Homo sapiens: one gene and its partner. The protein of the gene in region 2 interacts with the protein of the main gene of each other region in a pairwise test. Each region holds a gene or a part of one and is shown on either strand. Other genes may lie near its edges.

Region 1 (3,823 bases), about 73 Mb from region 2:
ACTGGTTAGGGACTCCCATTAGAGATACTGAAATTTCAGAACAGCATAATGTGATATGGAACAGCTGTCAAAGTTCCCATTTTAAAGTCTACCAATCTACTGACAAAATGACATGACCAAAGCATCAAAAGCATTTCGCCACAGGACAGCCTCAACTATAGACCCTATATACAGTAAGCCTCCAGTGTATTATAGAGAATATATGTTCAATTTTAGATGTCTCTGAAAAAATGTGAAGCAAAATCAGAAAGTTGCTCAGAACTATAACTGTTTGAAGAAGTGGAATTTAAAATTTTATGATTTCCTTTGAGTATGTCAACTGGTTGCCTCCTTCTACTCAGTGGCAACCTGAGGTGAAAAATATTTCCCCAGAGTAAACTCTTGCCCACAGTCTCCCTCCAATACATAATTCAACTCACAGCCACAATCTGTTGGTCCACGGCATTCTTCTACCCGTACAACACACTTGGATTCACCACCAGGGCATCCATTTGTTAATATAACTTCTCTAACACCAATACCTTTGGTTTAAAATTTAAAAAGGCAAATGTTAAGAAAAAAACTGATTCCAGAGTGTCTTCACTTTCCCACCTAGGTCTTTTCTTAAGACTTTTCTTCTAATTTCAGAAATTAAGTTTCTAAATTCAGAACGATAACACTTAAAATTTTTTTGGCTCTTCATTTTGAATTATTTCCTAAAACAGCATTTTCTGGAGTGAGTTACGTGAAACACTAGTTCCTCTGGTTACCATAAGAAAAAGGATTCCATGATCATACACATTTGAAAATGTTACATCAAATGAAATTAAAGGGACCGCTTTACTACGGAATTTTGAGGGAACTTTTAATACACTAGTAAAATAACATGCTATTGTGTACATTCGCATTGATCTAAGATGTAAAAACATTTTAACATCTTTAAAATCAGAATACATTTACAATTGATAACATGTCATAAATTAATTGGCAGTATTTTTCCTTTTTAGAGTACATAAAATGTACTTCTTACAGTCCATAAATTCGTGGATTTGATGGAATATAGTGGTATACAATATTTCCCAAACTTATTTGACCATGGAACTTTTTGGGGAAGCATGGGGAAAGTTTCTGGAGGAAAATAAAAAATCACATTTTAGCATAAATGATGCCTTTAAATATTTAGATTCATAAAATGTCTGTATTAAATATAGAGAGGAGAACCTATTACTGACCAAATCTCCATTTCCAACAAGATGCTCTCTTTAGATTGTCACACTTTTTGTAACAAGAACTTAACTCTCCTAACTGATCTCAGAATTCCAGAGTTGGCCTCACATCACCACAATTGAGAGAAATAACAAAACATGGGATTAGCTACATGTTGAACCGTGTCCCATGTTAAGACAGGCTAAGAAAGAGTCCATTTTTATTTCCTTAATTACCAGATTTCCTCTTCCAGCCCCTCTACGATGTTATCTTAGAGGGCAAAGGGAAGTTGATGACTAGAGGTGTCTTATAACTGCTTCTCCAACTTGACAGTGCATGCAAGTCACCTGGAGATTTACTAAAATGCAAATTTTGATTCAGCTGTTCTTGAATGGGTTTGAGATTCTGCATTTCTAACAAGCTCCCAGGTGATACTGATGCAGTCTGTGGACCGCACGTTGAATAGTAAGGGAGAAGGCTACATACGAAACAAGAAAATGGAAGGATGGAAGGAAGAAGGTCTTTGGTTAAGAGAGATGATGGCTGAGAATGGCTGAAGTACGGCTCCACTTGAGTTTATCAAAGTTTTTTTTTGAGACGGAGTCTTGCTCTGTTGCAGAGGCTAGAGTGCAGTGGCGCGATCTCAGCTCACTGCAACCTCCGCCTCCCGGGTTCAAGCAATTCTCCTGCCTCAGCCTCCTGAATAGCTGGGATTACAGGCGCGTGCCACTACGCCCAGCTAATTTTTGTATTTTTGGTAGAGACAGGGTTTCACCATGGTGGTCAGGCTGGTCTCGAACTCCTGACCTGGTGATCCGCCAGCCTCAGCCTCCCAAAGTGCTGGGATTACAGGCATGAGCCACCACGGCCAACCTGAAAGCGTCTTTAGAAGCACAGCCTTAATTCCGAAGTAATTAACATGCTATTGTTAATATTTTTAAAACAGGTTTTTTGTTGTTGTTTGTTTTGTTTTGTTTTTGAGATGGAGTCTCGCTTTGTCGCCAGGCTGGAGTGCAGTGGTGCCATCTCAGTTCACGCAACCTCCACCTCCCGGCTTCAAGCAATTCTCCTGCCTTAGCCTCCCAAGTAGCTGGGACTACAGGTATGTGCCACCGCACCCAGCTAATTTTTCTGTATTTTTAGTAGAGATGGGGTTTCACCATGTTGGCCAGGATGGCCTCGATATCTGGACCTCGTGATCCACCCGCCTCGGCCTCCCAAAGTGCTGGGATTACAGGCGTGAGCCACCGCGCCCGGCTTAAAGCAGTTATTTTATGTATTTATTTATTTAGCTAAATACAGTTCACTGAGATGCATGTAGGTGTGGGATTTTCTGTAATACCAAGTAACATCTAAAAATCTGCCTGGATATAAAAGAAAACTTTTTGACTGCTAAAATATTGTTTCAGGAGTTTAACAGAATTTTCATCAAGGCATTTTTCTCTTCTAGTTCTAAATTGGAAGGTTTTTAACATTTTCGGCATGAAATATTGCTTTTCCTAGTTTATTTTTTTCCTTATAACTTATTACCATCTGATACATTACATGTTTTACATATTATGTGTCTGCTCTTACTAAACTATACATTGCTTGGGGGCAGAGAGTTTTGTCTGCTTTGTCTGCTCATATCCCTAGCATCTATAACGATGCCTGGCACATAGTAGGCAAATAATTTTAAAAAAATAATCATTTGAGTGAGTACAATTTCTAAACTTGTCTTTAAATAATAGAAAACAATGGCAATTACTCGAACTGTCATAAAAATAATTCTCTACCTGTGAAAATTTCCGAAGTTAGTAGCTAAACAAAGATGTAAACCACAAATAAGTAATTGCAGGCTTACTACATGGATTTCTCTCATTTTATGACTCTTGACTTACTAAGAAATTAAGGTTAAAAAAAAAAACAGGTTAAAACAATTTTAAGAGATAGAAAGAAGAGTGGTTGCCAGGAGCTGGGAGGAGGGGGGAACAGGAAGTTAGTGTTTAATGGGCATTTTAGTTTGACATAATAAAAAAGTTCTCGAGATGGGCGGTTGTGATGGTTGCACAAGAATGTGAATATGCTTAAGTCAACGGACTTGTATGTTTAAAAACGGCTAAAATGGTAAGTTTTATGTTGGGTATACTGTACCACAATTTTAAAAAGCTTCTCCAAATAAAAACAATTCAGGTGTAATTTTTGACACCGCCACCCCTGCAAAATTCATTCTGATCTAGATCTGAATGGATTTTGTCTTCTTATCCTCTGATAATTGTCCCGTTTTCCCTCTCATCACTATTTTCTTTCCAAGGCAGATTCTATTTAGAAGAAATTTAATTTGATTGTGAATTATCTATGGTCTTCTCAGTACCCTGGTCTACAGCATTGTTTCTCAAAGGATAGTCCTCTAACTAGCAGCATCAACTTCATTGTAAACTTGTTAGAGAAATTTTATGTCCAATTTCTACCCATGGAATGATCAGACTAAGTCATATTCTTTGAATATTATCCTCCCCACAAAGCCAATACATCTTTTCTCCAAAACATGACACGCAAATTGGAGAAATGTAGAATTTAGAATGGACTATTACAAATAAGCAAATTCTTGATAAATTTGCCAACACAATATGTGGGAAGACATCTGTGAGATGCATTG
Region 2 (3,823 bases):
AATGTTTGGCAAAGATCTGGCTAAAACTAGTACTATGGAATAGAAAAGGAAAAGTGACATTTGTGTAATTTATTTTGGAAATGCAAAGGAATTATTATGCAGCAATCTTAACTTTGTGTACATACCACTCACCTCCCTTAAAATTCAGCAGAACCAGAGGTGCCAGAAATGTCAAAAAATATCTAGTCATTCCAATATGTAAAACAAGACTGCCTTGTTTTAAAAAAACAAATTAAATGTAAAAATTGTATGACTCTTACCCAGTGAAAAGCTTTACTAACACAGCCCTGGGTGCTATTTCCAGATACTGAAAAGATCTAAGTAGGTGCTTAAGAACTGCTTTTTAACCCATTCACAACCTTCATATTAAACTAGGATGAGGCTGCAGGAGCTGAGGAAGGAAGGCCTGGGTGGGAACCTGGATGTCCTTTCCTGGAGAACAGCTTTGCTATTTCACTGGTAACTCCGAAACTTCAAAATATTGACTGTACAAATTACTCAAGTTTATTTTGGCCTAATTATTCTTAAGAAAGGTGGTTCTTTTTTAGAAAAGGGAAGCAGAAGCTAATTGAAATTCCATTACTCAGGCCTCTAGTAAGTGCCCCCTTCATGTAGTCACTATTCACTGAGGGCCATGAGGGTGAGGCCCTGCTGGGGGGGCAGGGCAGGGCTGTGAGCTCAGGAGCCCATCCCTGTGCTCAGAGAGATGGGACTCCAATGAGGAGACACACTATGTAGGTGCAATTTCTGATTTCTTAGTTTTTGACCAAAATAGCAGTAATTTCAAACAGTTGAATGTCGTGATCGATACTATGTCAGTTGGTGATGAATGCTGTGAATGGTATTGAATGTCCTGGACCAAGAGGAACAGCAACATGTCCTTAGTCCTCAGCCTAAGAAGTCCATCGAGTCCTTCTCTCAAATTGTACGTCTGTTGTTTTCAAAAGCCATTGTGACAGGTCAAAACCCTGGAGTATTTGGTTTGTGTTTAAATGTACTTGACACTCTGGAAACACTCAACCTAAGCCCTGGATGCAGGAGGCAGGGATGCTGAGGATGTGAATTAGAGTGCTGGGATGTGCTAATGCCTAGGGAGGCATCAGGCACTGTGCTGGCTTGGGGGATCCTGTGATGACTGGAACCTGGGCCTTCATTACGGGCTCCGGTTTTGGAGTGCAGAGGGATTGGCATTTGTAAAGACTGCTTGCTTACCCTTTGTCTGGCATGCACATTCAGGATGTGACTTCAGCTTCATTCATCCTGGCCAAACAAAAAAAGTTCAAAAAATTGTTTTCAATTAAATTTCTGAAGATCTTTGTAGGGAAGCACCCTTCTGAGATGAAACCAATTTCTTGTCCACACAGCCACCATATCCTTATATAGATGGGGAAAAATCCAGAAAAGGGGGATTTTCAGCAGCTGGCTTGAAGCCCCTGAATGGTCCCTTGGCAGAGGCAAAGAATGAGCCCAGAGCCTGAGATTCAAGATGCTGGTCTCTTCTGAACACACCGTGGAGCAATGTGGTGCACCTGCAGATGCCGCACTCAGCAGCCTGGAATGCCAGCTCTCATGCCCTCACCTAGAAACGCCTTCTCGGCTGAATGGCTGTTGGCTCTCAGCAGCACCTGTCAGCATAGCTCGGCCGCTTCTGCCCCGTGCCAAGGCGTGACTAGGACCAGAAGAATCAGAAAGCATGGTGGAGTCCGAAAGCATTGGCAAAGCCAGCACATCTGTGAGCATGTTACACATGGGCTTGCCTAAGTATTTCCTTCTCTGTGAACATCACTTAGGAGCTACGTCAGTTAAGGCATCGTGAGACACAGGTGTGGTGGAGGCATTATGAGGGGACTACTCCACAGGACCTTGGAGAGTTGCATTTTGGGGGGCTCTCCTAGAAGCTCTGGGGGAAGGAAGCAGTGGCCTCCTGGTCAGCTACAGACACAGGCGGGTTAGGGCCCGTCTTGCTTTCATGTTCTTTTAAACACAAATGGCAGCTCACAAATATTCCTCTAAATATTCCTCCATACAGCCTAGGGCCCCTCAAGAGACGTGCAAACCAAAGTATTTGTTTTTCTCACTTTATCTTTAACCTAGTATGTGGCAAGTCTGGACCACTGCTTTAGAGAAAGCTGGATTAAATCTCTTGAGCAGAAGTAGAGACCCTAGAGAATCTTCACTGGATACCTTGCTTCACACTTTGGTCAATATTTATGAATAAGTTCTAAAGCCTATGCGAAGCCCATTCTGTTTTGCTTGGGGACCAGCCAGACCACTCCTCCACTCCAGTGGGGCCTTTTTTGTGTCTTTCACATCACTGTTACAAGTTGTGGCTGGACAATTAATGACATTTAAATCACTGTCCCACATATGGATATATTAGAAAAACCCTAATGTTTTAAAATTTTTTTAATCATCAGCTGCTTTTACAAAGCTTTGCATGCATTTGTTTAGAGGATATTGCAGTCGAGATATTCCAGTACTACTGTGTGATCATATGAAAAAAGTTGGTTTTCTCTCTGTCAAAGTCAATAGGGTGGTAGACTAACTCACAGAGTGCCTTACTTCTTCCTCCCGATTAATCGTGTTCACTATATGGTGGCAGAATCAGTCCAGTCCCCCAGACCTCAAGCTGCATCTTCCAAATGGTTGGTGTCTTTTTAAGAGTCCCCGTGGGCTGGCTTTCCTGGAAGAAGTCCATTAAATTCCCTGCTTCTATAAGCTGCAGGAGTCGCCTAGGATATGGCCCGTCACGTCTGGGGATGACCCTGCACTGCTCTCCAGATTTCACTCAAGGTTCGTATTTTTCTCTGCCACCTTGAACTACAGAACAGGCTCTCAGTAGCGTGATAAGCTTTAAGCTAGAATGAGATGGAAAGGTGGGAAAGACAGACAGGAAGTGTAGCTCTTAGTCTATGGGGCTCTCCTTAGGGGACAAAAAGATGGCTTAGGCTCCGTGGGTTTTCAACTCGTAGAAAAAATAACCCTGGGAACCAAAGCAGTTGTTGTGTGCTGAGGAGATGGTGACCTCCGTGTGACCTGAACATGGGTGAAGGTATTTGAGGAGGCGTGATGAGCTTCCGTCCAGGAGTACCCGTGGTTGTCTGTGTCATTAAGGGCGCAGGGTGTAAGGAAACCAGGTTCCCAGGCTGCATAACAAAATTGTTCTTCGTGGACAGGTCAAATGACTGATGAGAAAGAGGTCCAGATCTCTCCCCAGCACGCCACATTCTCTTTCGGCTCTAAGGCAATTCAAAACTTGGCGCTCACTTAGTTATTTCCTAAGAGATTTCTGCCTGCATTCCTCCAGCCTGGAACCCAAGGCCCTAGCAGGCAGGCTGTTTGCTTGCTTGTGTGTTGTGTGATACCAGAGCCAATTCAGAAGAAAATTGAATGTCTGTGGGCCCCCGGATCTATGTTTTTAGAACTTACTTAGATTACTTCTGTGTTGAATGGAAGAATGAAAATGAGAAAAATAACACATTTTTAGTACGACAAGAAAATTTCTGAGCATTTTTGAGAGTAGCAACATAGAGGCAGCTTTCTAGTCTTTCATCCTTGGCTTAGTGCTTTAGGATTCTTAAAGTGTGCTCTTTTACCCTTGACACACCCCAAGAGGTAGATATCGTCACCCCCATTTTGCAGATGGGGAAATGAGTCAGCAAGGAAAAGTGTCTCACCCAAATCCTACAGCCGATGAGCTGCAGAGTTCAGGTGAATGGCGTAACTCAGCATCACGGACCCCTCCGAGAGACTGGCCCGATAATCCAGGCGCAGGTCCACTAGGGCGTGCTCACAGACACGCAAGGCTACACACCATGCACAC

What was found.
Region 1: the proteins of AGPAT4 (region 2) and SPACA1 interact in binary tests that used the Homo sapiens proteins (3 or more experiments, as listed by UniProt).

The regions. Positions count from the first base shown.
Region 1 is NC_000006.12:88,054,310-88,058,132, reverse strand, and holds part of SPACA1 (sperm acrosome membrane-associated protein 1 precursor), read right to left. Parts: intron 522-3,823; coding exon 420-521; intron 1-419. UniProt on the Homo sapiens protein: Plays a role in acrosome formation and establishment of normal sperm morphology during spermatogenesis. Important for male fertility.
Region 2 is NC_000006.12:161,130,933-161,134,755, forward strand, and holds part of AGPAT4 (1-acyl-sn-glycerol-3-phosphate acyltransferase delta), read right to left. Parts: 3' UTR 1-3,823. UniProt on the Homo sapiens protein: Converts 1-acyl-sn-glycerol-3-phosphate (lysophosphatidic acid or LPA) into 1,2-diacyl-sn-glycerol-3-phosphate (phosphatidic acid or PA) by incorporating an acyl moiety at the sn-2 position of the glycerol backbone.